4 linked regions of the Homo sapiens genome follow. The protein of the gene in region 2 purifies or fractionates together with the protein of the main gene of each other region. This does not show direct contact. Each region holds a gene or a part of one and is shown on either strand. Other genes may lie near its edges.

The links.
Region 1: the proteins of CCDC183 (region 2) and FOXP1 purify together in Homo sapiens (affinity purification with mass spectrometry; 3 studies listed by BioGRID and IntAct, with this or other methods). This does not show direct contact.
Region 3: the proteins of CCDC183 (region 2) and GRIPAP1 purify together in Homo sapiens (affinity purification with mass spectrometry; 3 studies listed by BioGRID and IntAct, with this or other methods). This does not show direct contact.
Region 4: the proteins of CCDC183 (region 2) and AP1B1 purify together in Homo sapiens (affinity purification with mass spectrometry; 3 studies listed by BioGRID and IntAct, with this or other methods). This does not show direct contact.

The regions. Positions count from the first base shown.
Region 1 is NC_000003.12:71,573,709-71,580,730, reverse strand, and holds part of FOXP1 (forkhead box protein P1), read left to right. Parts: intron 1-7,022. UniProt on the Homo sapiens protein: Transcriptional repressor. Can act with CTBP1 to synergistically repress transcription but CTPBP1 is not essential. Plays an important role in the specification and differentiation of lung epithelium.
Region 2 is NC_000009.12:136,799,333-136,806,354, forward strand, and holds part of CCDC183 (coiled-coil domain-containing protein 183), read left to right. Parts: intron 1-380; coding exon 381-458; intron 459-669; coding exon 670-837; intron 838-1,056; coding exon 1,057-1,161; intron 1,162-3,331; coding exon 3,332-3,454; intron 3,455-4,594; exon of another isoform or gene 4,595-5,169; coding exon 5,170-5,295; exon of another isoform or gene 5,296-5,429; coding exon 5,430-5,484; exon of another isoform or gene 5,485-6,024; coding exon 6,025-6,125; exon of another isoform or gene 6,126-6,252; intron 6,253-6,717; exon of another isoform or gene 6,718-6,745; coding exon 6,746-6,906; intron 6,907-7,022.
Region 3 is NC_000023.11:48,999,253-49,006,961, reverse strand, and holds the start of GRIPAP1 (GRIP1-associated protein 1), read left to right. Parts: upstream 1-4,697; 5' UTR 4,698-4,732; coding exon 4,733-4,774; intron 4,775-7,457; coding exon 7,458-7,524; intron 7,525-7,662; coding exon 7,663-7,709. UniProt on the Homo sapiens protein: Regulates the endosomal recycling back to the neuronal plasma membrane, possibly by connecting early and late recycling endosomal domains and promoting segregation of recycling endosomes from early endosomal membranes.
Region 4 is NC_000022.11:29,385,571-29,392,853, reverse strand, and holds the start of AP1B1 (AP-1 complex subunit beta-1), read left to right. Parts: upstream 1-4,283; 5' UTR 4,284-4,430; intron 4,431-4,757; exon of another isoform or gene 4,758-4,945; intron 4,946-7,283. UniProt on the Homo sapiens protein: Subunit of clathrin-associated adaptor protein complex 1 that plays a role in protein sorting in the late-Golgi/trans-Golgi network (TGN) and/or endosomes.

The sequences.
Region 1 (7,022 bases), on a different chromosome or scaffold from region 2:
AAAATATATTGAAGAATCGCTGCAAAATTTTTCCATTCCATCCCCTTTCCCCCACCCCCGTTTTCCACAGCAAGAATCAATTTGGAGGGAGATGTGTAAACTAGAATTTTTAAAGAAATAGTAAGACTTCAGGTGTTTTCTACCCAGGGATAGCCTACATAATTGAGAAAGAGGAGTTCCTGCTATTTTTCTGTTCCAGAGAGAAATGTATCAAATCTTTTTTAGAATTCCACTGGAGTTTTGATTCTCAAAGTGGAAATACCCATCCCTTTGGGTCCAGGAAAAGAAAACTCAGCTCACAGTTTCAGAAATTTGGACTGTTTTTTTCCCCCCTCTGTCTTTCTATTTGAAACGTCTCACAATTAAAGAGCAAGAAAAATATAAAAAAGGAACTCAACTAGTTACCATTCAAAAGGTGTCAGCTAAAATCTCACTGCAAAGGGAAAAAAAAAGGTTTAACATCTTGCCACTGGCTGCATCCCCCACCCCCCTTAGACTTTGGATTAGTCATTGTATGAGAGAGAGGGAGAAAAAAAAAATCACTTTTTTTTTTTTTTTGGAAAAGTAAAGTAAACAGCCTCCAACTGCTGAACCTTGACAACCCAAATTAAGGAAGCAGGAGAGATCAAACAGAACTGCTGCTGGGTGGTTGTCAGGAGCTGCTACACGGAGAACCCTGGACTATTCGATCAAGCAGCAAGGCTATATGTTCACTTATGCAGAAATGGACCATTGCAGATGCTAATCTTTGTTGTGCAAGCGAAGGCTCACTTGGAAGGAAATACTCAGCCCCTCTCTGGGCAGCATTTGAGTTCCTTATGGATGCCGAGTCGCGAAACAAGTTATTTTTTTTAATGTATCCTTCTTTATGAGGAGAATGCTACCCAAAAATGTATTAAAGGAATATTAAGTCGTCCAGAGACTGTCTTGCTACCAAGAACTGTGCAATGGAATTCTTTTTACCAACATTAGACTCCTACACTAGAGTTAGATAACGTTTTCTCACATTGAGTTTAGAAGATCTGCCTTGTCAGGGAAGCCAAGGTTTTGTATGTGAGAGTTTAAATCTGATGTGAAGCTCAAAAAAAAAAAAAAAAAGAAAAAAGAAAAAAAAGAAAAAAAAAATCTCTGGTGATGAAGTTTTGTGTCAGCCCACTCTTGGAATTTAAAAAGGCGAGAGAGAGCAGTCTCCAGATTAGACAACCTCTTTTTTTAGATTGACATTCAACATGACCACGTTGCTACTTTTATTCAAGTTCTCTGTAACTTGTCCTTGCTTGTTGTCTAGGAAAATTTAACTACTTTACATTTTTAAAGGGAGTAGTAACAGTAATTACTGTAGCATTTTGTTTTCACAGGTTTATCAAAGTATAATGAAAGAAACATCAACTATTCAAATTAACTGTCTCAGATAAGGGGTTTATATTGCTGGAGATGTCTAAGATTTTGTGTTTATATTTAAATCGTGGAGTATAAACTGTGTAACACTTTTTTTTTTCTGGGATAAACTATCCCCAAATTAAATGTTATTTTAAATTAAGTAGAACAAAGTAGGAAACAGGATAAGTAAACACATACAGAAGAATAAAAATAATTGTCATTTAAGGATTATATTTTTAATTAACAAGTGTCGGTCACATAGTAAGCAGTTTATATATTTTTTGTAAGCCAGAGTTTCATAACCATGGTGCACAACATGTTTCAAAGTCTGTAGTTTTTACTAGATATACCTTTATTGTATAATTAAGCAATGTGGGTTAAACATACACATGGATGCTATTAGGCAATTTTCTGCAATATGTAATGTTTTGAAAACGCTATAAATATTTTCTAGTTAAACCATTTATACTTATAATAGCAAAAGTTAACTGAGTTAATATTGAGCCTAGGCATGGTTTTCTGTTACTGAGTTTTTCTTTGCCTTTTTAAAGACTATACCCCTGGCCTTGTAAATTTGCATCTTAGGCTCTGTTGAAGGGTATGTCTGTTTTCAGCAGTTGTTTAAATTAACAGAAGAATTGTGATATTTTTCAAATATATTTATATTGCAGGGGGTCCAGTGCCAAAATTAAGAAAGAGAAGGAATATAGCAGATGTGACAACTTCTTTTGAACCCAGCTTCCTCTTTGCAGCCAATCTTATTGTGCATATTTATTTGATTTTCATGTTTTACTTATGACTCAAACTCAGTTTTGAAACACTATCTTGTAAGATTCCACATCTCAAAAAGTATGTATATTTAGACAAGGTTAGGTGTTACAGTACCTATCACATTTCAGTGGGAATGCCAAGAATATTTACAGGGTATAGCAAGAATTTTGTCCTTTAAAAATAATTTTAGGTATACGTTAATAAAACCGAAGTAGATTGCAGGCTGTCAGAACATAGTATAAATTTTGTTTATGATTCTGTTACTTTAAGGTACTTACATTAAAGAAACTCATTTAACCCGTGACTGAAGAGCATTAAGTGGGGAGGGAAACCCTCTGAAGAGCTCCTACTGCCCTTTGCTCTCCCGATAATCTTAAATTACTACAATTTAATTGCAACTTCAAGGCATTCAGCATGAGCTGTTTCTTCTCCACGACCGAGAAAGGGTTTCCAGAGCATGGCTAGATTTACACAGGTGGTATTTTTGTTTTTAATTTTTTTTTTCTTTTTGCTAAGGGCTTTTCCTTTCTTCCTTATCCTGTCAGATGTCACACTTCTTTTATAGATTTCAGTCATAGTAAATGCCATTTTTGCTATACCAGCAATATTGGCCTTCTTTTTTTCTTTTTAAATGTGTTTTTTTGAATCTAGAGTATATAAACCTCTCAAGCAGGTAGGGGTTTGTTTTCTAAAGAAAATAACCTCAAGAAAGGCATCTGCTGAATAGACAGGTGAACTTTATACCTGAGCCAATGTATACTTTTACTATTTGCAGGGGATTTTTTTTTTTTAAGTTGATGGTAGTTAGTCCCACCAGGTGATCAAACATTGAGTTTGTGAGACAAGCCAGCAAGCCAAGTAGGTTTGCACTTGGGCCCATGCATTTTTTTAATGATCTTTCTTGTCATTTGTTACTCTACTCTGCAGGCCACTTTGCTATACATATGCTATCCAAGGAACCATCTTAAACTGATTTTTCAACATATTTCTCTTCTCCGGTACTTGGATGAATTAAGGATAAAGGCTCCAAAAGCTGGAATGCCAGCAGGCCTTGAGATGAGGCAAGTTCCTGAAACGGGCAAACCTGGCGAAATTTGGGGTATCTTCTGCATGATAGTTTTTTTCCTTTTTTTTTTTTCCTGGGACGTTTGTAGTTTATTTCAATGAGCATGTGACCATGTGCTTAATGGAAATTAAGCAGATTTGGCTTGTGTCGCTAACCTAAAAATAAATGTTGTAAGGAATATTTGATTTCTAGAAGTGTTTTGGTTTTGCATCCCATAGATAATGTTCTTACAGTTAGGGCTACGAGGCTGGTATTCTGCAAAGAGGAAGTACAATGGGGGAAAGTGCATGGCAGTCAGGAAAGACAATTAGACAGTGTTCTTTGTTTCTTTAATAAATTATTCTTATTAATTACAGTCAGTTTGTGCTAAGGCATTTTTCAATCCTTGTTTAGAAGTCAGCTGCCATTCACAAGAAGGTTGTGCCAGAAGCTGTGTTCTTCGCACGCACTGTTGTTTTACCCAGTCGTGAAATCTATTGACCAGATTGGCTTGTGGATGTCTCTGCAAGGCTTGTTTTTCTTTTTGCAATGCCCTGATGCCAGTCTTTAATACATGCCCTGCCTTGTACACAACAGGTGTTTGTTCGGTAGTTATTTTATGGGACTTAGAGTGAGAAAAAAATGTTTCCTATCTAGCCAGCCGCTGTGAGAACGAGTGCCTGAAAGGGAGAACCTACCTAGTACCTGAACAGGTGTAAATGGGTGTTTCCTCATGACCCTCCCCAAGCTGTTTTATTTCAAAAGGAGGGGAGGGGGGCTCAGTTTAGTGCCATGAAATTTACAATTCAGTTGTAATAATTTAAGGTTATTGGTAGAGTGCAAAGGGCAGTGGGAGCTTTCTAGTGGTTTGGCCTTGATGCTTAAAGCTGCTCAGTTGTAGGGTTAAATTAGTTCCTTCAGTCTGAGTACTTAAAGTAACTAAATCGTAAACAAAATTTATATTCGATTCTGACAACTAATAATCTATTTAAATTATATTAAAGTATCTGGGCAAAAATTTAATTAAAGACAGAAGTACTGTCAAGCCCTGTAAATATCTTGACAGGTCTACTCAAATGGAACTGATATCACGAAATATTTACATATGTCTGCTGTGTTCGGGAACATCTCAGCAGTGCCTGTGCAAAGCTAATTGCACTTTCCTTCCAAATTGTATTTTTAATAAAATAGTTTTTTTTTTAAAAAGGAATATGAATACATACACAGTTGTGTTCCAGTGTTCTGTTTACTATTTACTTCTCTATACTCAGAATCATGTTGTGATGAGTGTATTTCCTCAAACTGCTGCTAATTCAGATAAATAGCTGAAATGGGATCATTGAATAGAAAGCCCATGTCATTCTGTTTGATTTCAACAGTTTGAAGATATCAGAGGCTAGCATGTTATAGGACAATTTACTGAGGGAAAAATGGATCTGAATGTGGGATTATTGGGCCTTGTTTATGTTCAATAGAATAGATTTGCTTAGGACAAACATTTTCTCTGAGTTTTATGTTTGGACATATATTTATTTATTACTTGTAAGTCAGGTGGACATCCACATTTTACCAGATGCTCTGATTTTAGCTAATTTTGTGATTCACTTTGTTTACTAGGACACTGAAGAATATTTCTAGCATCAAACTGAATTTCCGAGGTGTCCTTTCTCCCTCCCAGCTGTGCAATTGAGTCATAATGTGACTTTCTCTGCTCCAGGTTCCCTGCTTTTGAATTAGGGGTAATATTTTAACATATGTTCTTTGAGCTTAGGGATCCAATGATACAGGGCTTTGTTATTACTCACATTTTTAAAAGATATTCTTGGTGCTCTCAGGACAGTGACCGCAGCTTTTGTTGGGGGAGGGTGTGATGTGAGTTTTGCTTGAGTTTCTTTTGCCCTGGTGCCTACCTCCTGATGACCAGTGGCACTGGTGGCTTCCCCTCCTGGGGGTGAGCACAGAGATGGAAGTGAATGCTCATGTCTGAAGTGAAGGGAGGTTGCAGTTGGTCCTAATTCAGCCTGGTTCAAAGTGAGGTCCTCGCTCACCTACCTCTGTATCTGTGTGTGTGTGTGTGTATGTGTGTGTGTGTAGGTTATTAAAATACAGATCCTTGAGTCAGAATTTTTGCTGATTGACATGGTAACGTACATTTATAACAAACTTCCCTTGATAATTCTGATGCATGCTAGAGACCTGTGAATCAAGTGATTTATTCTTTCAGATGTGTGGAACTGAAATCTCTATCTTCACTTGGATTTTACTGATGATTTCTTTGATTTTACCTTGAGGCCCATCCTGTGTTGTTTTTAATGTATTTGGATTTTTATTACGAATGAAAAACGGTGGTTTTTAACCAAGCACGAGTATTGGAATCACAGCAGAGCTGTTGTTCCCAACACAGACACAGTTGCACGACTCCTGGATGTGCCGTATCTGGGGTGGGGCCAGCATCTGTGTTTTTAAATCGCATCCCACATGGTCCTGATGCCCACCAAAGTGGGAAAACTGGACCTGTCAATTATCAGAGTTGGAGGAAAGCCTGCAACCCTTCTTAAGAGTTTAATTGAATTGGTTGGCCATTGTGAAACCTAAGAGAAGAAAACGGAGCTCCTTTTTCAGGAGGGCACAAAAAGAAACCTTGGAGACTTAGAGAAACAGAGGCAGAACAAGAGCCTCACAGTTCAATAACGTGATAGGAACAACCTGGAACATCGGTGGTTTTCACCAAATGTCAATATCAGATAATTTCCTTTTGAATTTTGTCTTGCCTGCATCCATGTTTCCCAATGGGTGTTGTCATGCTGTAGCTACCAATTAGTGTCAGATGACTCTCTAGAATTTTTTTTTCTGAGTATTCCATCTTAATTTTAAAATTGTAACTGTTTGCTCTTTGGATTAACCCTGCTGGCAGAAGTATTTTGATTTTCCCAAGCATCTTGGGAAATTCTCTATCGTATGTGATGGGGCATGCACGAATATTGATGGAAATAGCCTAGCCAACGATGCCACACAAATAAAGAAACCAGAATCCTAAGAAGAAGGCATCCTACAAGATTATGAAATAAAGGAAGATAAAATGTTAAGGAGGCTTATTTAAATATTCAGGGCTTCAACTAAAGATCTAACCACTAAGATCAAAAGAGTTATTTAAATAAAAGTTGTTGAGACATTTTTTCATCTGTATTAATAATGTGGCTTTTGAAGTTACCCGGTAATAATGTGTCCATAATGCCCACACCTAATTTTTAATTTCCATTTTGGCTTTAGGTGTGGCTTTATTTTAATAGCTGCCAAAAAGTTGGCAATTGTTTTTACGTTTAGAACTTCACAGTTTGCTTTTCTGTAGGTTTAGGTAGCATTGGGGATATTCGTCTAATAAAAACTTTTAAAATTTCTGTTCTGACCCTGAGGCACTTAAAAAAAACTCTTATGGGCCAAATTTTAAAAGTAGAGTGTCTCTACTACTGCATAAAGAATTTCTATAAAAGATGAAACATGGAGCTGATTGAAAGAATAGACGGCGCAATGGTAGAGGACACATAGTTACCACTGTCACTGGTAATCTACAGCTTGATGCGAAGTCATTCCGCCTTGTTTGTTGAAATGTTAATCATTTCATTAAGAAAGGTTAAGTAATTAACTGATATTTCATTAGGGAATCAATGACAGACCTTTTTTTAGTGATGTATGGTAGATATTTTCTAATAGAAAGTTTGCCCCATTTAATTATTTGGAAAGAAGCTAGTTGATTGAGCCTTGGGAAGGAGGGGTGGGGCATCTTCAGATAACATCTATGTCCATAAGCAACTTTAAATAATTTTGG
Region 2 (7,022 bases):
ATCCAGGGGGCATGTGAGGAGGGGCTCTGCTAGGACCTGTGCCCTGGGCTCCAGTCACCCCAGCATCCGGTGGGCAGGTTTCCCACCACCCAACCCGAGGGCTTGGCATCTGTGAGCCCACATCCTGCAGCAGGGGCCCCCTCTGGCTCTCCGGCCAGCTAGGGGACACCCAGGCCCTCCTCTGCATACCCCCCTACCACGTCGCCTCCGAACTTGGATGGCCAGGATGGGGTCCCGCGGCTCTCTGCTCCTCGTGGAAGCAGGGATCTCGCTACTGGGCTAGCGTGGGATACAAGAGGCCCTGGGGAGAATGCCTGGAGGAGCCAGCGGCTGCGGGTGCGCAAAGGGCCCGCTCTAGCTCAGCCGCCGCCGCTCCGCAGTATGACCAGTGGACCATCTCCAAGGCCTGCGGGAAAAACTTGCCTTTGCGACTGGCGCACTGCCGCAGCACCATGGAGGTAACCAGGCAGGAGGGGCCTCGAGACCCAACCCTCCCCACCCCTGCCAGCACCCCCCCACTAGATGTTGCGGAGCCGACGAGGGACGGAGCAGGTGCCCAGCCCCAGGTTCCCTGTGGGGTTGCCACGAGCCTCCACCCGCCCGCCTGCTGGCGGGCTCCATGGCGGCCCCCTACGCAACCACGAGTGGGCGGTGCCCTTCCCGACCCAGGTGGTGCGGGAGAAGCTGCGCAAGTACGTCTTCGACCGCGTGAACATGCACAACCTACTGATCCACCTGGTGCGGCGGCGCGGGCAGAAGCTGGAGAGCATGCAGCTGGAGCTGGACAGCCTGCGGAGCCAGCCCGACGCCAGCAAGGAGGAGCTGCGGCTGCTGCAGGTGGAGAGGCGGGGCTGGGAGGGCGGGGCGGAGTCCACTGGGGCAAGACTCACGGGAGGGGCGGGGCCACCGGGGGGCGGGACTTGCGGGTCCCCTGGGGAGGGCTCACGGGAGGGGCGGGGCTAAGAGAGCACGACCCTCTCCGGAGAAAACCCAGCCCCGACACCCTCCGGGCGGCCGGTCCCCACGCCCTCTCACTGCGCCCTCGGTCCGCCCCAGATCATCCGCCAGCTGGAGAACAACATCGAGAAGACAATGATCAAGATCATCACCAGCCAGAACATCCACCTGCTGTATTTGGACCTGCTGGATTATCTGAAGACAGTGAGCCCAGCGGCCCGGGAAGGGCGGGGGTCAGGGGCTGGGATCTGGGAGGGGCGGGAGCGTCCTGGGGCGGAGCCGCCCCGCACCCGCCAGGGAGAGGGAGCTCTGCCTGACCACCGGCTACGCAGGACGCCGAGGCATGTGGAAAACGTTTTTTTAAACTTCATTTTTGGCTATTCCAAAAAAGCATATCGTGGGGTATATCAGAATTCTTCGGACTTTCTTGCACGTATTAAATGATTTGGTATTGTTTGTATCTTGCCTGTCATTTTCTCATTGCCTGGGCCTCTGAGAGTCAGACAGGTCCTGCACCCTCAGAAAGTCCTTGCACCTTTGAGGGTCCGCTGGGCCTGTAAGCAGGGCTTGCTGCCGTCCCAGCCAGCCCACCCGCCCTGCTCCCTGCAGACGAGGCCAAAGGCAGCCAGCAGTCCGATTGTGAGGGAAGACCCCCTTCATGGGAGGCTGAGCACCGCCCCTCGGGCTGCCACAAAGCAGAACCTACTCCAGATGGGCTGTAGATAGGGAGAGCACAGGAGGTGCTAAGAGGAGCAACCTGTGGATGGGGCGGGGAGCCAGCTGGAAACACCCTCACCCTAAGACTGGGCAAAGGGGAGCTCTGGAGAGCCATGCTTCGGGAAGGTGACAGCATGGAAGTGCAGTTTAGGAGGAGTGGTGGACGGAGGCTGCATCGCAGCTCTTTTCCTGCTGTGGTCCCAGCCCAGGTGGCTCTCAGCACCGTCCTCTGCTTGTCCCTCTTGCCTTGGCCCCTGGTCCTATTGGCTCACCTGGAAGCCCTGCCCCTCTATGCTTCCTGGGCCCACCCCTCTCCCCACCCCTGTCCATGCCCCTCCTTCGCCTGGGTGCTTTCTGTTCCTCTGGTAGCGCCTTCTTCTGTTTAGAACATACACACTTAAAAAACAATTATTCCCGGCCTGGGCATGGTGGCTCATGCCTGTAATCCCAGCACTTTGGGAGGCCAAGGCAGGCGGATCACTTGAGGTCAGGAGTTCTAGACCAGCCTGGCCAACATGGTGAAACTTCATCTCTACTAAAAATACAAAAAGTAGCCTGGCATGGTGGTGCATGCCTGTAATCCCAGCTACTCGGGAGGCTGAGGCACGAGAATCACCTGAACCCAGAAGGCAGAGGTTGCTGCAAGCCGAGATCGTACCATCGCACTCCAGCCTGGGTGATAGAGTGAGATTCAGTCTCAGAACAAAGGAAAAAACAAGCAATAATTCCCATAGTCATCCATATTTTTAAAAATGAAGATTCTACACTTCTAGTTTTGTTTTTGTTTGTTTTGTTTTTTGAGATGGAGTTTCACACTGTTGCCCCAGCTGGTGTGCAGTGGTGAGATCTCGGCTCACTGCAACCTCCGCCTCCCGGGTTCAAGCGATTCTCCTGCCTCAGCCTCCCGAATAGCTAGAATTACAGGCGCCCACTACCACGCCCGGCTGATTTTTTTTGTATTTTTAGTAGAGACAGGGTTTCACTATGTTGGCCAGGCTGGTCTCTAACTCCTGACCTCATGATCTGCCTGCCTCCGGCCTCCCAGTGTTGGGATTACAGGCGTGAGCCACCGCACCTGGCCTATACTTGTAGTTACAAAAAACAAACCACTATAGCAAAGCTATCCTGAGCACGTATGTACCTGGTTCTGGGCTAAATAATTCCTTTTACACTCAATTCATCCTGATGGCAACCTTCTGAACGAGCCATCATCTTACAAATGGGGACACAGAGAGATTAAGTAACTTTCCCAATGTCACACAGCTAAACTAGCTGGTCAGAAGCTGCCTTGGCCTTGAATCCTGACTCTCTGACCCCAAGCCCATGTCTTGAGCCCCTCTGTTTCACTTCAAAGCAGAACTGTCCCCAAACCTCCCCGGGTTTCAGTCAGCCTTTTCTGCAGAGCATTTCATCACAAACTCTCTCAGTCTCTCTGGGTTGTTGGACCCTAGGTGGTGAAAGAGTCCACCAGGCCAGCACTGTCCACTCCCTGTGAAACACCTTTCATCACCGTTGTGCCCAGCGGGGAGTGGGGGAGGTGGCTGGGGCCACAGAGGAGAACCTATCACTGTTCTCAGGGCTCTTAGTCGGGGGATAAAAGCTCGGGGCAACTGCAGCCCACTCTGTAGGGGCCACAAGAGAACCCCATTCAACACAGGTGCTGGCAGGATACCCCATTGAGCTGGACAAGCTGCAGAACCTCGTGGTCAACTACTGCTCAGAGCTGTCGGATATGAAGATCATGTCCCAAGATGCCATGATGATCACGGATGAGGTCAAGGTGAGCTCAGGGCCCAGGGCTGGGGGCCCCCCAGGGCCAGCCCTCTTGGATCTTCGGATGGGGTCAAGGTGAGCTCAGGGCCCAGGGCTGGGGGCCCCCCAGGGCCAGCCCTCTTGGATCTTCGGATGGGGTCAAGGTGAGCTCAGGGCCCAGGGCCGGGGGCCCCCCAGGGCCAGCCCTCTTGGATCTTCGGATGGGGTCAAGGTGAGCTCAGGGCCCAGGGCTGGGGGCCCCCCAGGGCCAGCCCTCTTGGATCTTCGGATGGGGTCAAGGTGAGCTCAGGGCCCAGGGCCGGGGGCCCCCCAGGGCCAGCCCTCTTGGATCTTCGGATGGGGTCAAGGTGAGCTCAGGGCCCAGGGCTGGGGCCCCCCAGGGCCAGCCCTCTTGGATCTTCGGATGGGGTCAAGGTGAGCTCAGGGCCCAGGGCTGGGGGCCCCCCAGGGCCAGCCCTCTTGGATCTTCGGATGGGGTCAAGGTGAGCTCAGGGCCCAGGGCTGGGGCCCCCCAGGGCGGGCTCTCTTGTGTCTTCTGGCCAGGGTCTCTCAGGAGACCCCCATGCCCACACTGCCTACAATCCCCAGAAGGATCCAGTGGCCAGCCCGGCCAGCCTGCTCTGCTCACCCACTGGACAGAGCAGGTCCCATCCAGCACAGGAGCCATGAAGTAGAGGAGAGGGAGAGAACTGGCCGGGCCAGGGCGGGGGTCACCTATTCACCCAGTCTGTGCCAAGGTCCCTGCAAGGCTCTGGGGATACAGCAGGGACCGGGACAGGCAGACCCTGTCCTCCTGAAGTGGGTGGCACTCATCCAGTAGTCCATGAAGAAATGCCACACAGCCCCTGAGCCAGCTCAGCAGAGACAGGTGGGGTGGCAGATGGCTTTCCAGGAAGACAGTGCTTGAGCTGGGCTGAGGGATTGAACCCGCAAAGGTCAGGTGTGGCCAGGGCTAGGGAGGAGGAGGTACAACTTGGGAAAAGGCCCTGGGCTGGGAGGGGTGTGATACATGGAGCAGCGTGTGGCCAGGGCAGTGGAGGCTGCAGAGGCACAGGCCCCAGGAGTCCACGGAGGCGGCTGGGCTGGGGGCCCAAGGACTGACCTGGAGCCCTGGGAGGAGGTGGAGGAAAGATGTGACCAGGTCTGTGCTTCAGAAAGGGTGTACTCAGGCTGCAGGGACTGGAAGGTGCCAGGGCAGAAGCGCTGATCACCTGGGTATACCCGGGGTGGAGAAGGGGTGGCCAGGAGCAACGGAGCTGAGAACTCCTCAAGAGGCAACCCCACTAAGCGCTGGCAACGAGAGTGGCGAGGGTGAGAGCAGTGTCTGGGGTGCGTGAGCAGGGGTTAGCAGATGACGGTTTTAGCTGCCCAAGGGCACGCTGGAAGAGGCCAGGTTTTGGGGAAGAGGATGAATCTGTCTTCAGGCAGGCTGAATGCACTTCCGTGAGTTCTAGGTGGACCTGGCCAGGAGGCAGCTGGGGGCCAGCGGCTGGAGGGCAGCAGAGCGTCTGGGCTGGCACATGCTCTGAGGCATGGGCAAGGAGGGCCGTGAGCTGAGGGGCCACGGGCACAAGTGGTTTAGGAAAAGGGTGTGGCCATTGGCCGGGGATGCAGTTCCAAAGTCTAGTAAGGTGAGCATGGCCAACCGCCCGCTGGCTTTACTGCCATTAGGGGCCTTGTTGAGACAGCTCCCCAACCCTGTGCCCACCCGCATGTCCCCAGAGGAACATGAGGCAAAGGGAGGCGTCCTTCATCGAGGAGCGCCGGGCAAGGGAGAACCGGCTCAACCAGCAGAAGAAGCTGATCGACAAGATCCACACGAAGGAGACCAGCGAGAAGTACCGCCGGGTAAGCCCCAGGCCAGGGCCTGGCTGGCTGCCCATCCCCATGACAGCTGGGTGGACACAGGCTCAGGGCCACCACTCAGGGCCCACTCCCTGCCAAGGATGTCTCATCCCTTCCCCGCCCCCACCTCCCATCAGGGCCAGATGGACTTGGACTTCCCCTCGAACCTGATGAGCACGGAGACCCTGAAATGTAAGCGCTCAGCTCCCCACCTGCCCCCAGCCAGGGTCCCAAGGAGAGGCTGGCACTGATTCAGGCCAACGGATCAAGTCACCCTGAGGCCAGGTGTGACATGTGGTCGCCAGGGTGAAGGGAAGGACAGGTCCCTGCCTCTCCCTCCAGAGGCTGAGAGCCTGTAGCCAAATGTGGCCTCAGAGATGCTGGCCCCAGCACCCAAGGGCCCTGCACCAAGGGCCCAGTCCCCAGTGACTCTGCAGAGGATGAGCATCCTGACCCCTAAGCTGCCTCTGAGAAGCACCACCGGGCCCACAGTGCTCACAGTGCTGCGCCACTCACTCCGGGTCCACCTCTGCTCTGGGGCTGCCTGGGGCGTCCCTGCAGGGCTGGGCTGAGGAGGGAGCAGGTTGGGGCGGGGGCAGGCATCTCTGAAGGATGCCTGTGTCTTGGGTGGCCGCCCCAGCAGCTGGGCAGGTACAGAGGTGTCTGACAGCCTTACACAGAGCCCCTGAGCCATCCCTGCATGCTGACTGCCCCTCCCCTCTGCTCTGCCAGTGAGGAGAAAAGAGACCTCCACAGCAGAAATGGAATACCAGTCGGGCGTGACTGCTGTGGTGGAGAAGGTCAAGAGTGCTGTACGGTGCTCTCACGTCTGGGTAATGCCCCTGGCGCTCCCAGAGAATGGCAGGAGGGTGGCTGAGCCTCTCACGTCTGGGTAATGCTCCCTGGCACTCCCGGAGCATGGCAGGAGGGTGGCTGAGCTGGGCTGGGGTCTGAGGCACTCTGAAATGGACACACAAAGTGGCAACTCCCTCGGCCGCCCCAAATCCTTTTATCTTAATCCCATCTGTGTATCTGCGTTTATTATTATTAGGCCTTGAGCTCCTAACCACTGCCCTGACACAAGCTTGTCCACTGTCAGACAAGTGACTCAAGTGACACAACGTCCTTCAGTGATGATCTCCTTATCTCTACATGGGGTTATCTACCCTCTCTGCCTGCCATTAGGGTCGTGTGCAATGACATCCACAAAGCGCTTCACCCCTGCTAAGTGTGGTGGTGCACACCTGTGGTCCCAGCTACTCAGGAAGCTGAGGTGGGAGGATCGCTTGAGTCTGGGAGGTTGAGGCTGCAGTGAGCTGTGATCACACTTGTGAATGAGCACAGAGAAAGTGCACTAGCGTCTAGGAGGGGCCCAGAAGAAACCAGTTCTGTGAAGCCCCCTCTGCCCACCATCCTGGCCCACACCTGCTTCTCTCTCCCCCGGACTGGCCAGGACATCACTAGCCGCTTCCTGGCCCAGAGGAACACGGAGGAGAACCTGGAGCTGCAGATGGAGGACTGTGAGGAGTGGCGGGTGCAGCTGAAGGCCCTGGTGAAGCAGCTGGAGCTGGAGGAGGCCGTGCTCAAGTTCCGCCAGAAGCCTAGCTCCATCAGGTGCCCCGGGCTTCCGGGGCTGCGGGCCACCCACCCCAGTCTCACAAAGGCCCCGGGCTGCAGCCAGGCTGGGAGCTGGGAGTATACCCACTGCCAACAAGCCTGTGTGTCCCACA
Region 3 (7,709 bases), on a different chromosome or scaffold from region 2:
CCTGCAATCAGCTATTTCTCTAAGGGGCCCTGGTTCCTGTTAGTGGAAAATGGTAATTAGGCAAGAGAAATCAATTACAGCCAGTGTGACTGATTGGAAAAGAATAAAGATATCCCTATTTTCAGATGATATGATTTTGTACCTGGTAAACCCTAGAGAATCAATGATAAAACACTCTAACAATAAAAGTATTCAGTAAAATGGAAGGATATAAAATTAACATAGAGAAATCAATGGCTTTTGTATATATCAACAATAACCAGTGAGAGGATATAAAGACGCATAGTGGCTCACATGTGTAGTCCCAGCTACTTGGGAAGTTGAAATGGGAGGATGGCTTGAGCCCAGGAGTTCACGGCTGTAGTGTGCCATGATCATGCCTATAAATAGCCAGTGCAGTCCAGCTGGGGCAACATAGTGAGATCCTGTCTCTACCGAAAAAAAAAAAAGAGATACAATGATAGAGAAAACCTCATTTACAATAGCATCCATAGCATCAAAGAAAATAATTAGGAAGAAATCTAACAAGAAATGTGAAAAAAATCTATGTGTGGAACACTTTAAAATGCTTCTGTCAAAACCCATTGATCTTTACGATATAAAAAAAGTTTGTTAATGTATGCAAAATTTTAAAAAAAGCAACCAGGAGGTCAGGGAATCCAGTATGGAATGGAGACTGTGACAACATAATTTATATATTACAAATGTAGGCAAGGGCCGGGCACGGTGGCTCACGCCTGTAATCCCAGCACTTTGGGAGGCTGAGGTGGGCAGATCCCTTGCAGCCAGGAGTTTGAGACCAACCTGGCCAACATGGTGAAACCTGTCTCACCAAAAATACAAAAATTAGACGGGCATGGTGTCACGTGCCCATAATCCCAGCAACTTGGGAGGCTGAGGTAGGAGAATCGCTAGAACCTGGGAGGCAGAGGTTGCAGTAAGCCAAGATCGGGCCACTGAACTCCAGAGCGAGACTTCATCTCAAAAAATCACACACATACAAAAAAAAACCAAAAGTAGGCCTAGTGTGGTGGCTCACCCCTGAAATCTTAGCACTTTGGAAGGCAGATGTGGGTGGATCACTTGAGCCCAGGAGTTTGAGACCAGCCTGGGCAACATAGTAAGACTTGGTTTCTACAAAAAATTAAAAAAAAATTAGCTGGGCATGGTAGCCTGTGCCTGTAGTCCCAGCTACTTGGGAGGCTGAGGTAGGAGGACTGGTTGAGCCCAGAAGGTCGAGGCTGAAGTGAGCCGAGATTGCACCACTGCACTCCAGTCTGGATGACAGAGCGAGACCCTGTCTCAAAAAAAAAAAAAAAAAGAAAAAGAAAAGGAAAAGGCCGTGTGTGGTAGCTTAGCTCACGTCTTTAATCCCAGCACTTTGGGAGGCCGAGGCGGGTGGATCACCTGAGGTCAGGAGATCGAGACCAGGCTGGCCAACATGGTGAAACCCCATTTCTACTAAAAATACAAACGTGGTGGTGGGTGCCTGTAATCCCAACTACTCGTGAGGCTGAGGCAGGAGAATCGCTTGAACCCGGGAGGCAGAGGTTGTGGTGAGCCAAGATCACGCCATTGCACTCCAGCCTGGGCGACAAGAGCAAAACTCCGTACACCCTCACCCAAAAAAGTTGTTAATATTCCTAATATGCAAAGAGGCCAGGTGCGGTTGTGCACACCTGTAACCCCAGCACTTTGAGAGGCAGAGGCGGGAGGATAACTTGAGGTCAGGAGTTTGAGACCAACCTGGCCAACATGGTGAAACCCCGTCTCTACTAAAAATACAAAAATTAGCTGGGCATGATGGTGGGTGCCTGTAGTCCCAACTACTTGGGAGGCTGAGGCAGGAGAATCTCTTGAACCCGGGAGGCAGAGATTGCAGTGAGCCGAGATTGCACCACTGCACTCCAACCTGGGCAACAGAGGGAGACTCTGTCTCAAAAGAAAAATAATAATTAAATTAAAAAAATAAAATAAGAACAGATATTAAAATGATTCTTGGTGGCATATGTCTGTAGTCCCAGCTACTTGGGGGGCTGAGGTGGGAGAATTGCTTGAGCCCAGGAAGTCAAGGCAGCAGTGAGCCCTGATTGTGCCACTACACTCCTGCGTGGGCGGTAGAGCAAGACCCTGTCTCAAAATAAAATAAAATGAAATAAAATAAGTTCGGGCACGGTGGCTCATGCCTGTAATCCCAGCACTTTGGGAGGCCGAGGCAGGTGGATCGCCTGAGGTCAGGAGTTCAAGACCAGCCTGACCAATGTGGTAAAACCCTGTCTCTACTAAAAATACAAAAATTAGTCGGGCATGGTGGCAGGCGCCTGTAATCCCACCTACTTGGGAGGCTGAGGCAGGAGAATTGCTTGAACCTGGGAGGCGGAGGTTGCAGTGAGCTGAGATCGCGCCAATGCACTCCAGCCTGGGCAACAAGAGTGAAACTCCGTCTCAAAAAAACAAATAAATAAAAATTAAAAATAAAATAAACATAGGACAAGGTGGTGAATCTCACTCATAATAAGAGAAACACAAATTAAAACTACACTAAGAGAATGGATAAACAAATTGTGGTATAGTCATACTATGGATTTTGTTTTGTTTTGTTTTGTTTTTGAGACAGAGTTTTCCCCTCTATCGCTAAGGCTGGAGTGCAGTGGCACGATCTCGGCTCACTGCACCCTCCACCTCTTGGGTTCAAGCGATTCTCATGCCTCAGCCTCCTGAGTAGCTGTGATTACAGGCGTGTACCATCACTCCTAGCTTATTTTTGTATTTTTAGTACAGATGTGGTTTCACCATGCTGGCTGGGCTGGTCTTGCACTCCTGACCTCAGGTGATACACCTGCCTCGGCCTCCCAAAGTGCTGGGATTACAGGCGTGAGCCACTGAGCCCGCCCGGCCCATACTATGGAATTTTACTAGTCAATAAAAAGAAAAAAAGATACTTATACACGAAACAACTTGGATGAATCTCAAAAGGATTATGATGAGTGAAAGAAGCCAGACAGAAAAGGATACATCCTGTCTCATTCTATTTGCATGAAACTCTGCAAGAGAAATGTAATCCAGTAACAGGAAGCCAATCATTGGTTACCTGGGATAGGGGGTGGGGTTTGGGATAGGATACAAAGAAATCAATGTTCCCTATCTTGCTTGTGATGGTGGTTACAAGGTTGTATACATTAGACAAAGCTCACTAAATTGTACCCTTAAAATGGGTGCATTTATGTATATAGACAGATCAATAGCGTTATCTTTCAATAAAGTCAATTAAATCAAGAAAGAAATCAAAGAGTCCTGGCTGGCAATACTTTTCTTTTTCTTTCTTTTCTTGGAGACAGAGTCTCGCTCTATCCCCCAGGCTGGAGTGTAGTGGTGCGATCTCGGCTCACCGCAACCTCTGCCTGGCGGGTTCAAGCGATTCTCGTGCCTCAGCCTTCCGAGTAGCTGGGATTACAGGCGCCCACCACCACACCCGGCCAATTTTTGTGTTTTTAGTAGAGATGGGGTTTCACCATGTTGGCCAGGTTAGTCTCGAACTCCTGACCGCAAGTGAACAGCCCTCCTTGGCCTCCCAAAGTGCTGGGATTACAGGCGTGAGCCACCGCGCCCGGCCCTGCTGGAAATATTTTTCCACAGCAGGGAAATCATTAAATTCTACGAAAATAAGAAGGCTGGGCGCGGTGGCTCACGCCTTAATCCCAGCACTCTGGGAGGCCGAGGCGGGCGGACTACCTGAGGTCGGGAGTTCGAGACCGGCCTGACCAATATGGAGAAACCCCGTCTCTACTAAAAAAAAAAAAAAAAATTACCCGGACGAGGTGGCGGGCGCCTGTAATCCCAGCTACTCGGGAGGCTGAGGCAGGAGAATCGCTTGAACTCGCCAAGCGGAGGTTGCTGTGATCGGATATCGTGCCACTGCACTCCAGCCTGGGCAACAAAAGTGAAACTCCGTCTCAAAAAAGAAAAACAACAACAACAACAACAACAAAAACAGAAAGAAAAAAGAAAATAAGAAAAAAACTACACTGAGATACCATTTCTTACTCTCAGATCGGTGAGGGTTATAGTGAATTCTAATACTTGAATGAGCCTGGTGTTTCACCACCCTGGTTTGTTTTTTGTTTTTGTTTTGTTTTAATGTAGCTTTTTCGTTTGATTCACTGTCACTCTTTCCACTCTGCTATTTTTATTGGTGGCTAAGTCCTTTACCTAACGTGACATGCAGTATCATGATAACAAAATAAGTGTCAAACCTTAAAAAAAAAAAAAAAAAAAAAGGCCAAAGGCTTTACAAGAGGTGGGATTCCCCTTTGGGGTCTCCCGGAGGAGGGGCGGGAACAAGACCAGAGCGAAGCTTCCGCTTTCATTTCTATGGTTATTAAGTTACCCATTCTCATTAAAGGAATACCGCGGAAGGGTGATTTTCTGTCGGCAAAGACTTCCCTAGCGACGAGTCCACCCATGAAACGGGGATGTAATAATGTCGTATCACAATGGGTGGCCTAGAAGAGTCCAAAAGCCAATCAGATGACTTACATTCGGGTAGAACGTTGTATTACAGTTCACCTGACTCGTCGGTTTCGTTCTCTTCTCTGCGTCTCCAAAATGCTGCCCTTCGGAATTAGGTTCTACCCCCTCCATTCCTGGCCAGTGGTTTGGTCCGACCTTAATACTGCCAGGAGGCGCGAGCTGCGTCTGCGCAGAAAGCTGGCGGGGGGGTGGGGGGAGGAACATGGCGCAAGCTCTGTCTGAGGAGGAGTTTCAGCGGATGCAGGTGCCGCTCGCGGTGGGAAAGACCACCCGGCTAGGCGACCGGGGGCGGGGTAGCGAGAGGTCGTGCTATCAGCTCTGAGAAGGGGTTGGTTGGGATGGACCCTGAGTTTATGGGGTGGGTCTGGAGAAGGGAAACTGAGGCTCGGAGTGGTGAGACTATTGGATTCCGAGATACTCTGCGGCTTTGAAGGTTGGACTCTGTTAGCATTGTGGGCTGGGAGAGCGCCATTAAGTAGGCGGTACCTTACTCAGACCTGGAGGGGACGAGACTTTTGGGCCCGTGCAGGGGACACCGTCGGCGGGTGATGATAATGGGCTTTGAGGGAAGGAGATCCTGAGAAGGCGAAACCATTTTGTCTGGAGAGGAAGGAAGCGGGTGTTGGGTCGTTTGCGTCATGGTGGTGGGAGCCCTTGAGAGGGCAGAACCATTAGCGGGTGGGAGGTGGTAAGTTTTGGGGGAGATACCACTGTGCCCGGGGATTGGGGAAAGACCCCAGATGTTGTCATTGTTCCTGGGAGGTGGAGATCCTGTGCCATTGGTGGTTGGTAGTGCATCCTAAGAGGGGGCGGCACCATTGGATGATTAAGGGTGATCCCATTAGGCCTGGGGTGAAGAAGGCCATGAATGGGTAATACCATTAATCCCATTAACTGGGGGGAGGACCAGAGGGGTAAAAGATTGATACCTTGGACTACAAGGAGGGAAGATCACTGGGCTTTGGGGAGGTACCCCCACTTGATTCTTTTGGGGGGACTCTGAGATGCAATGAAAGGCCATAGCATTGCACTATGAATGGGCCCTTGTTGAGAGGGTTCCTCACTGGGGGGGGGGTCTGAACAGGGTCCTGCATGGGGAGGGGAGGAACTCTGAGGGAGGACAGGTAATCCAATTGGTCCTTGAATGAGGGAAACCAGCTGTCCCTGTGTGAGGGACACTGAGAATGGAAGGGCGAGTTGATTAACCCATGAATGGGGAAGACCACTGTCATCTGAAAGGGATTCTAAGTGAGTAAGAGTCATCCAACTGGCCTACCCAAGGCCTTGTAGAGGCCTACCCTGAAGGGTGTAGGGCCATTCCCAATGGATCATGACTGGGGAGATCTTGAGGGGAGTGGGAATACCCTTGAATGAGGAACATTGATCCCACTGGGCCATGAATGAGGGAGAACTACTGGGCTTTGTTGGGGGGCAAGTCTCGGGGGGTACAAAGGATATTCCACTTGGACCAGTACTTGGAGAGACAGATCACTGGGTCCTGGAGAGGACAGGAGTAGGAAAGATTCTGTGAAGGCCAAGCCCTCTGACCTTGAGCAGACTACCAGAGAACAGTGAGTGGAGGCTGGTGGCGTGGGAGGGAGGGAAAAGTCCTGGTAGGGGAAGGAACAGTAAGTTCCTTAATGGGAAGGAACCGGCCTTGCTGGGTAGAACCAGCCTCAGGGTCCTATAGGGCTGGTAGGGAGGAGGATGCTTAATTCTTTTTCTTTTTCTTTTTTTTTGAGACAGAGTCTTTCTCTGTCACCCAGGCTATAGTGTGCAGTGGCACGATCTCAGCTCACTGCAACCTCCACCTCCCGGGTTCAAGTGATTCTCCTATCTCAGCTTCCCTAGTAGCTGGGATTACAGGTGCGTACCACCACGCCCAGCTAATTTTTGTATTTTTAGTAGAGATGAGGTTTCACCATGTTGGCCAGGCTGGTCTTGAACTCCTGACCTCAAGTGATCTGCCCACTTTGGCCTCCGAAAGTGTTTGGATTACAGGTGTCAGCCACTGCGCCTGGCACTTTCCCTTAATTCTTTTTTTTTTTTTTTTTTTTTTTTTTTTTTGAGACAGAGTCTCACTCTGTCACCCAGGCTGGAGTGCAGTGGCACAATCTCGGCTCACTGCAACCTCCACCTCCCAGGTTCAAGCGATTCTCCTGCCTCAGCCTCCCGAGTAGCTGGGACTACAGGTGTGCGCCACCACACCCGGCTAATTTTTTATATTTTTAGTGGAGACGGGGTTTCACCATATTGGGCAGGCTGATTTTGAATTCCTTACCTCGTGACCCACCCGCCTTGGCCTCCCAAAGTGCTGGGATGACAGGTGTGAGCCACCGCACCTGGTCCTCCCTTAATTATTGAAGGGGGCCTGGATGTATTTTGAGAGCCTTGGAGGTGGGGGGACCCTGGAAAGCCCCCTGACTCAATGAAAGTTGGGCAGAATACTTGACCCTTTTCCCTTAGGAAAGAGGGAGGAAGACAGGCCCTTAACCCCCTGCCATCAGAGGCCCCCAGGTCTGGTCAGAAATATGGACAACACCCCTGACAGTGTGTGTTCAGTGTGTGGAGAGGTCAGCCAGGATGAGGAGGAGGAACTTTATCCTGTGGGCATGGAGAGCCAGGGAACTCACACAAGCAAGACCCTGACTGGGGGCAGTGCTCTGGGATGGCCTGAGTGCAGCGTGGATTGTAGTGTGAGATGGAGGGGTGAGGCTGGCTGGGGTTATAAGTGGAGCTGGAAAAGGTGAGCCAGGGTCTGAGGGCCTGGAAGGTCACTTTGGGTGTAGCACATACAGGTCTTAAGGAGTAGCTACAGAGGCACATGGAGGGCGTAAGGTCTGTGGAGCTTAGGGGCTTGGTTCCCTCATGGTAGGGGTAGGGGCGCTTTCCTGACCAAGTCTTTTCCCTTCCTGCCTCCCCCAAAGGCTCAGCTCCTGGAACTCCGGACAAACAACTACCAGCTTTCAGATGAACTACGCAAGAATGGTGTTGGTGAGCCAGGAGGGCCTTATTAGATGGGGGTGGCTTTGGGGAATGGTGTCCGAGGTTTTCCCTCAGAGGCCTGGCAGGAAGGCCTTTCAGTTTCTTGCCACTGGCTGAGGCTGAGTTTCCCTGCTTTCCCGACACCAGAACTCACCAGTCTTCGACAGAAGGTCGCCTACTTGGATAAGGAGTTC
Region 4 (7,283 bases), on a different chromosome or scaffold from region 2:
TATTTAAGTTCTCAGGGTTGAAGTTCCCCCCAAGATGAAATGGAGCTAAAACAACCCCTTCCTCATGGGGCCGATGTCAGGAGCAAATGAGATTTTCTGCACACTACCTGCCACGCTACATGTTCCATAAACATTCACTGTTGTTCTGCAGTTCCTGATTAAATACACTCTACTTGGCCGTGTGTGTTGGCTCATGCCTGTAATCCCAGCACTTTGGAGGTGGATCCCTTGAGGTCAGGAGTTTGAGACCAGCCTGGCCAACATGGCAAAACCCCATCTCTACTACAAATACAAAAATTAACCAGGCATGGTGGTGTGCAAATGCAGTCCCAGCTACTTGGGAGGCTGAGGCAGGAGGATTGCTTGACCCTGGGAGGCAGAAGTTGCAGTGAACCAAATTTGCACAGCTGCACTCCAGCCTGAGTGACGGAGACTCTGTCTTAAAAAAAAAAAAAAAAAAAAAAAAAAAAAAAAAGCCAGGTGTGGTAGCTCATGCCTATAATCCCAGCACTGTGGGAGGCCAAGGCGGGCGGATCACCTGAAGTCAGGAGTTCAAGACTAGCCTGGTCAACAGGTTGGAACCCCATCTCCACTACAAATACAAAAATTAGCTGGGTTTGGTGGTGGGCGCCTGTAATCCCAGCGACTCGAGAGGCTGAGGCAGGAGAATTGCTTGAGCCCGGGAGGCAGAGGTTGTAGTGAGCCGAGATTGCTGCCACTCCACTCCAGCCTGGGGGACAGAGCAAGACCCCGGCTCACCAAAAACAAAACAACAACAACAACAAAAACCTTCTACTTGTCCAGGCATCCCTGGTCCCTCCAACCCAAAGGAACTTCAGTTTTAGCTCTGGACTCCCATAGCCTCCCAGTATGTCCCCTCTCACAGCATCAGTCACACTTGTGACTTGCTCCTCTGTCACCCCCTCTCCCTGCAAACTGTAGGCTGAGCAAGGGCAGGGCCTTAGCCTCACCCATCTGACTATCCAGCACCCAGCCCAGGGCCTGGCTGAAACCAGAGGCTTGGAAAATGCTTTCTGCAGGACTCAGACACCTGGCTCCCTTGCACTGGGCGTGGGGGTGGGCCCGTGAGGTTTTCCTGCCTCGGCACAGTTCTTTTCTCTGGATTACCCTTTCCTTCTCTCTCAGCCTACGCAACTCTGTTCTCATTCGGCAAGACAGCGCAAATGCCATCTTCCCCAGGAAGTCCTTCCTGAGCCGCCCGGTGCTGTGACCTCTCCCTCCTTGGAAATCTTAAAGCTCTGACTCCTTCAACCACTGACTTGCCACTTGCACATAAGCTCTCCAGCTTGATACCTTTAGGTTTGTTGGTTTGTTTTGTAGGATAATTTTTCTCTTCTGATGTTACATTCCCAATGAAATTTTGTTTTCCACTGAGGCGGGTGGCATTTACCAACATCTATCATCAGAGAAGGGCAGTTCCTCCAGAAAGTTGCATATCACACATGCTGCATGGCACATACATACACATAAAATTATTCCAGGCACACAGAGGAAAGATCGTGTGAGGACATAGCAAGAGGGCGGCCATCTACAAGCCAAGGAGAGAGGCCTCAGAGGAAAGCAGCCATGCCAACACCTTGATCTTAGACTTCCAGTCCCCAGCACTGTGAGAAAATAAATTCCATTGTTGAAGCCAAAAGAAAAAAAAATTCCATTTGTTCCCTGACTACTTTTTTATTTTTATTTTTTTTGAGACAGAGTCTCACTCCGTCGCCCAGGCTGGAGTGCAGTGGTGCAATCTTGGCTCACTGCAAGCTCCACCTCCCGGGTTCACGCCATTCTCCTGCCTCAGCCTCCTGAGTAGCTGGGACTACAGGCACCCACCACCATGTCCGGCTAATTTTTTGTATTTTTTAGTAGAGACGGGGTTTCACTGTGTTAGCCAGGATGGCCTCCCTGACTACTTTTAAAAAGGATTTAAAAATGGAATAAGGTGGCCGGGCACGGTGGCTCACACCTGTAATCCCAGCACTTTGGGAGGCTGAGGCGGGCGGATCACAAGGTCAGGAGAGCCAGACCATCCTGGCTAACAACGGTGAAACCCCGTCTCTACTAAAAATACAAAAAAAATTAGCCGGGCGTGGTGGCGGGCGCCTGTAGTCCCAGCTACTCGGGAAGCTGAGGCAGGAGAATGACGTGAACCCGGGAGGCGGAGCTTGCAGTGAGCCGAGATCGAGCCACTGAACTCCAGCCTGGGTGATGGAGCGAGGCTCCGTCTAAAATAAATAAATAAATAAATAAATAAATAAAAATGGAATAAGGTTTGTAATTTAGATAACGGTATTTTACCAACACCACCAATTTCCTGCTTTTGCTATTATACTGCAGATATATAAAATGTCACCATTGTGGGAAGCTGGGTGAAGGGTATATGGGACTCAATTTTGGTACTAATTTTGCAATTTCCTGTAAGTCTATAATTATTTAAAAATAACTTTTAAAGGCTTTGAGGCTGCTTAAACATCTAAAATTATATTAAATATAAAAACCAGTAATATCTATATTAGATAGGACGTAGAGACTTAGCAATAAGTGCACTTAGCAGTAAGTGCAAGCTTATTTATTAACAACTTTTTGATAATATTAAAAAAGATGGATAACAACCTCAGGGGATTGTTTTTGAGATTAGCAGTACCATCCACGTAATGGAATACTATGCAGATACTGGAAAGTGCCAAGTAGAAATGTATTTACTATTTTGGGAAACTTTTACCAATATTTTGGTGAGTTAAAAAATACCAACAGTGGCTCACGCCTATAATCCCATCACTTTGGGAAGCTGAGGTGGGCAGATCACTTGAGGTCAGGAGTTCAAGACCAGCCTGGTCAACATGGTGAAACCCCCGCCTCTACTAAAAATACAAAAATTAGCTGGGCACGGTGGTGCATGCTTGTAATCCCAATTACTTGGGAGGCCCAGGCAGGAGAATCGCTTGAACCTGGGAGGCAGAGGTTGCAGTGAGCCAAAATCACGACACTGCACTCCAGTCCGGGCAACAGAGCGAGACCCTGTCTCAAAACAAACAAACAAAAAAAAACAAATGATCTATCAAGTTTGGAAGAATATTCACCAAAATATTAAAAGTGATTGTCTTAGGTCAGTGGGATTGCAGATGGTTTTTTTCTTTTTTCTTTTTTTTTTTTTTTGAGACGGAGTCTTGCTCTGTCGCCCAGGCTGGAGTGCAGTGGTGTGATGTCGGCTCACTGCAAGCTCTGCCTCCCGGGTTCACGCCATTCTCCTGCCTCAGCCTCCTGAGTAGCTGGGACTACAGGCGCCTGCCACCACACCCGGCTAATATTTTGTGTTTTTAGTAGAGACGGGGTTTCACCATGTTAACCAGGATGGTCTCGATCTCCTGGCCTTGTGATCCGCCCGCCTCGGCCTCCCAAAGTGCTGGGATTACAGGTGTGAGCCACCATGCCCGGCCATTTTTTTTCTTTTTTTGAGACAGGGTCTGGATCTGTCGCCCAGGCTGGAGTGCAGTGCTGCAATTATAGCTCACTGTAACCTCAACCTCCTGGGCTCAAGCTATTCTCCTGCCTCAGGCTCCCGAGTAGCTGGGACTACAGGTATGAGCCACTGTGTCTGGCTCAAGGTCACTCATCTTAAGAATGGAGGGGTCCAAACTAGAGCTGTAAACCTAGTTTGGACAGAGAGAGACCCCTCTGTAATCCCAGCACTTTGGGAAGCCGAGGCGGGAGGATCTCTCGGGTCCATGATTTCGAGACCAGCCTGAGCAATAAAGTGAGACTCTCTCTACAAAAAATAAATAAGTAAATAATAAGTAATTAGCCGGGCGTAGTGCTGCGCACCTGTGGTCCCAGCTGCTTGGGAGGCTGAGGTGAGAGGATCACCTGAGCCTGGGAGGCGGAGGGTGCAGTGAGCCCAGATCTTCGAGCCACTGCACTCTAGCTTGAGCAACAGAGCAAGACCCTATTTCAAACAAACAAACAAAAAATGAGTGACCTTGAGCAAAACCCTGCCCCTCTTAGAACCTCAGATTTGCCGTCTTTACACAGAAGATGGACTTCAAACTCCCTACGACCTTGCCCGGCCCCCTCACGCTGAATTGGCTAGCGGGATGGTTTCCCAAGGGCTCTGCGGGAGACTGCAGCATAGCAGCGCCGCGGCTGCCGAGGGGTTAATACCGTTGGGCTCTTCCCCTTTTCTTGCCCCGCCCCACGGGCACCACCCCCGCCAGGGTTGTACCCTTGACCCCGCCTTCAGGCCTTGCGTCCACCGGAAGTACCCGCGCGCGGGCAGCTCACTTCCGCCCGGCAGGTGACAGCCGCGGGGCTCCGAGCCGCCGGCAGCCCGGACGCACCGGGAGAGCGAGAGGTGGAGGCCGCGGACATTTTGGTGCCAAGCCGAACCGAGCCGGGGCGCCGGGAGCTATTGGGACCTGCGGGTGAGGAAGCGGGGACCCGGGCGAGCCAGGAGAAGAAGTGGGGCGAGGGGTCAGGGGTCCTAGGTGAGGGGTTTGCGGGGTCAGAGGTCATGAAGAGGACGCGGCGCTGCAGGGGCGCGAGCGACGTCCCCAGCCAGAGGAGGAGGAAGGGCTGAGGGTTCGTTCATTCATTCGCGCCCACTTGGCCGCCGGCCTGTTCCTCGGCCGCCCCATACCCGCAGCACCTCCTGGGGCTTCCGCCCGGAGAGACAGGACTTAGGCCCCGAGGAATTCCCCACTGGCCTGAGGGAAAACTCTTCGGGCTCTGATTTCCTCTTTCGGACTCACCTCCATGGCCATCCTGAGGCCTCCTCGTTGTTCAGGGCGTTATCTCTTTGCCAAGGTTGAAAAAGAAGAAAGAAAAAAAAACTAGAAAACGGTCCCGTGCCGCCCGCCTCCGGCTAGGCACTGGCTTGGTCTTGTTTGTTGGAGCCTCTAAGACAAGTTAACTGAATGGAGACACCGGTGATAATGCTGCAAAATAACGAGGGAGATGCTTGCTAGTGGCTATCGAGTCCCTTCTGTGTACCGGGCACTGTGCTAAGCACTTTCCTTACAATGACACATTTAAACTTCACAGCAACCTTTGTGGGGATTAAATATCCCTATTTTATCGATGAGGACCCTGAGGCACAGAGAGGTTAAATCCCACATGTAAGGTCATTCGGGTAGTAGAGGCAAGGCCAGGTTTTCTGCCAGGCTGTCAGAGACCTGCAAAGTACAGAGACAAAGGAAAGACTGGAGTTAAGGTTGGGGTGTAGGGGATATTTAAGACTTTTAGCCAGACATGGTGGCTCACGCCTGTAATCCCAGCACTTTGGGAAGCTGAGGCGGGTGGATCGTGAGGTCAGGAGTTCAAGACCAGCCTGACCAACATGGTGAAACCCTGTCTCCAATAAAAATACAAAAATTAGCCAGACATGGTGGCGTACGCCTGTAATCCCAGCTACTTGGGAGGCTGAGGCAGGAGAATCGCTTGAACCCAGGAGGTGGAGGTTGCAGTGAGCCGAGATCGTGCGACTGCACTCCAGCCTGGGCCACGGAGTGAGACTCCGTCTCAAAAAAAAAAAAAAAAAAAAGATTTTTAGCTGCCGTTGTATTTATTTGGATTTATGTCACGATGTAGCCTTATTGCTTTTTGTCTGATCTTCATAAGGGGCATTCGACTTACTTTCTTTAGGATAAAACAATCCTACAGGCTGTTGCTATTAGTGATACCTTTCAGGGCAAGAGTCTAAGATTTTCCTGACTTTAGGGAACAGTGAGACACAAAACAGGCTATCCGTGAAAACTATTTGAAGATTGTCGAGAACTTCTCTTCAGAGTGGTTGAGCTGCATTCGTTTTGGTCTAAAAAGAGAGGAACCACATGACCTCTAGGGGATCTTTTGGTCCTAGGTTCTGGAAGAAGGTACCCAGAGGAAGAATCTTTGCCTTTCTGAGAAATATGCAGGCCCCATGGCTTCTTGCCAGAGCAGAGCACGTCTTACTTGGGAGGTGGTGAGACGGTTTGGTGGCTGGAGGACTAGGCTGTATGAATCTAAGCCTCATTCCATTGCGGATATTCACTTGCTTCAATTCTGCCTCAGTTTCCCTGACATCAACATGAGAAAGACCTGCCGCCTTCCTGTCTGCTCCTAGGGGTATGAACCTGTGAATGAACCCGTGAGGGCTTCCACATGGCTTCTGAAGAAAGCTGTATATAAATATTACTGTAATACCTTTTTTTTTTAAGCTGTGTGATCTATTCTCCTAGTTCCATTGAATTCACAGAAACTTAATATTGTCACCTTATATTCCCATCCTTCCAAGGGAGGATTTGAGATGAAGCAACTTGTCACAGAGGGTAGGAACATGAGCAGAGCTCAGAGCTTCTGGTTTTCTGTCCTGAGTTGAGCCCACCAGTCTCCTCTGACCTCTTAGAAACTGTCATGAGGAGCATCTTCAGTAGGTCTCAAAGAGTCAGATCCCTCAGAGATTGTGTGAAGATCATCTGTTGAGTGTAGGTCAGTGGAGGCTTCACCCTGAGCTGCTTCAAGAGCCCAGAGGTATGATGGAAAGATCACCAGACTCCCAGTCAGTCAGCCCTGGGTTCAACCCCAGCTCAGCAGCTTCCTGGCAGTGTGACCTGACCTGGACCGTTGACATAGGCTGGCCCTCCTTTACCTCAGTTCTAAAATAATACTGGCCACCCTTTCTGACTCCTCTACCCCTGGTTTGTGTGAGGGTTAGATGGGAAAATTTGTGCAGGGCCTGTGATTTTTGGGTGCTTTGACTCTAGGCAGACTGATGCCTGCTGGGGGCCTGTGTCTGAGGAAGGCTGCCAACCTTGGCTTCTGGAGCGTTACTTCCTTCTGCAAACAGAGACCTTAATGTACGCAGGACTTTTTCCACCCTTCTTGTTTCACTTCCTAAAAGTAGTTCAGAACAAGTTCAATTTGTTGGTCCTTCTGGCTTTGAGCTTGGGCTTGCATCTTTTTCTAGTCATCCTCTGAAACTCTTGCATGTCTTAACTACTTCCCAGGAACTTCCCGTGTCTGGCACCAAAGCCTGACATGCTGACAGTAAGCAAACATGGCTTGGGTTTTGCACTTCGCTGTGTTTCTGAAGGTTGAGGTGACATCTGTGCCTTGCAGACATTTCTTTTTCTCAGCAGGTCTTTTTGCCTAAGAGACATCGTTGATATTATCACAGCCCAGAAGTGATTTTTCTGTTCTTTATGTCTTCACATGGAGAGGAACAAATACTCCTGAGAAAAAATGTCAACAGAGCAGTTGGGGAATCCTTAAAGAAAATTCTGCTTGAAAATTCATCA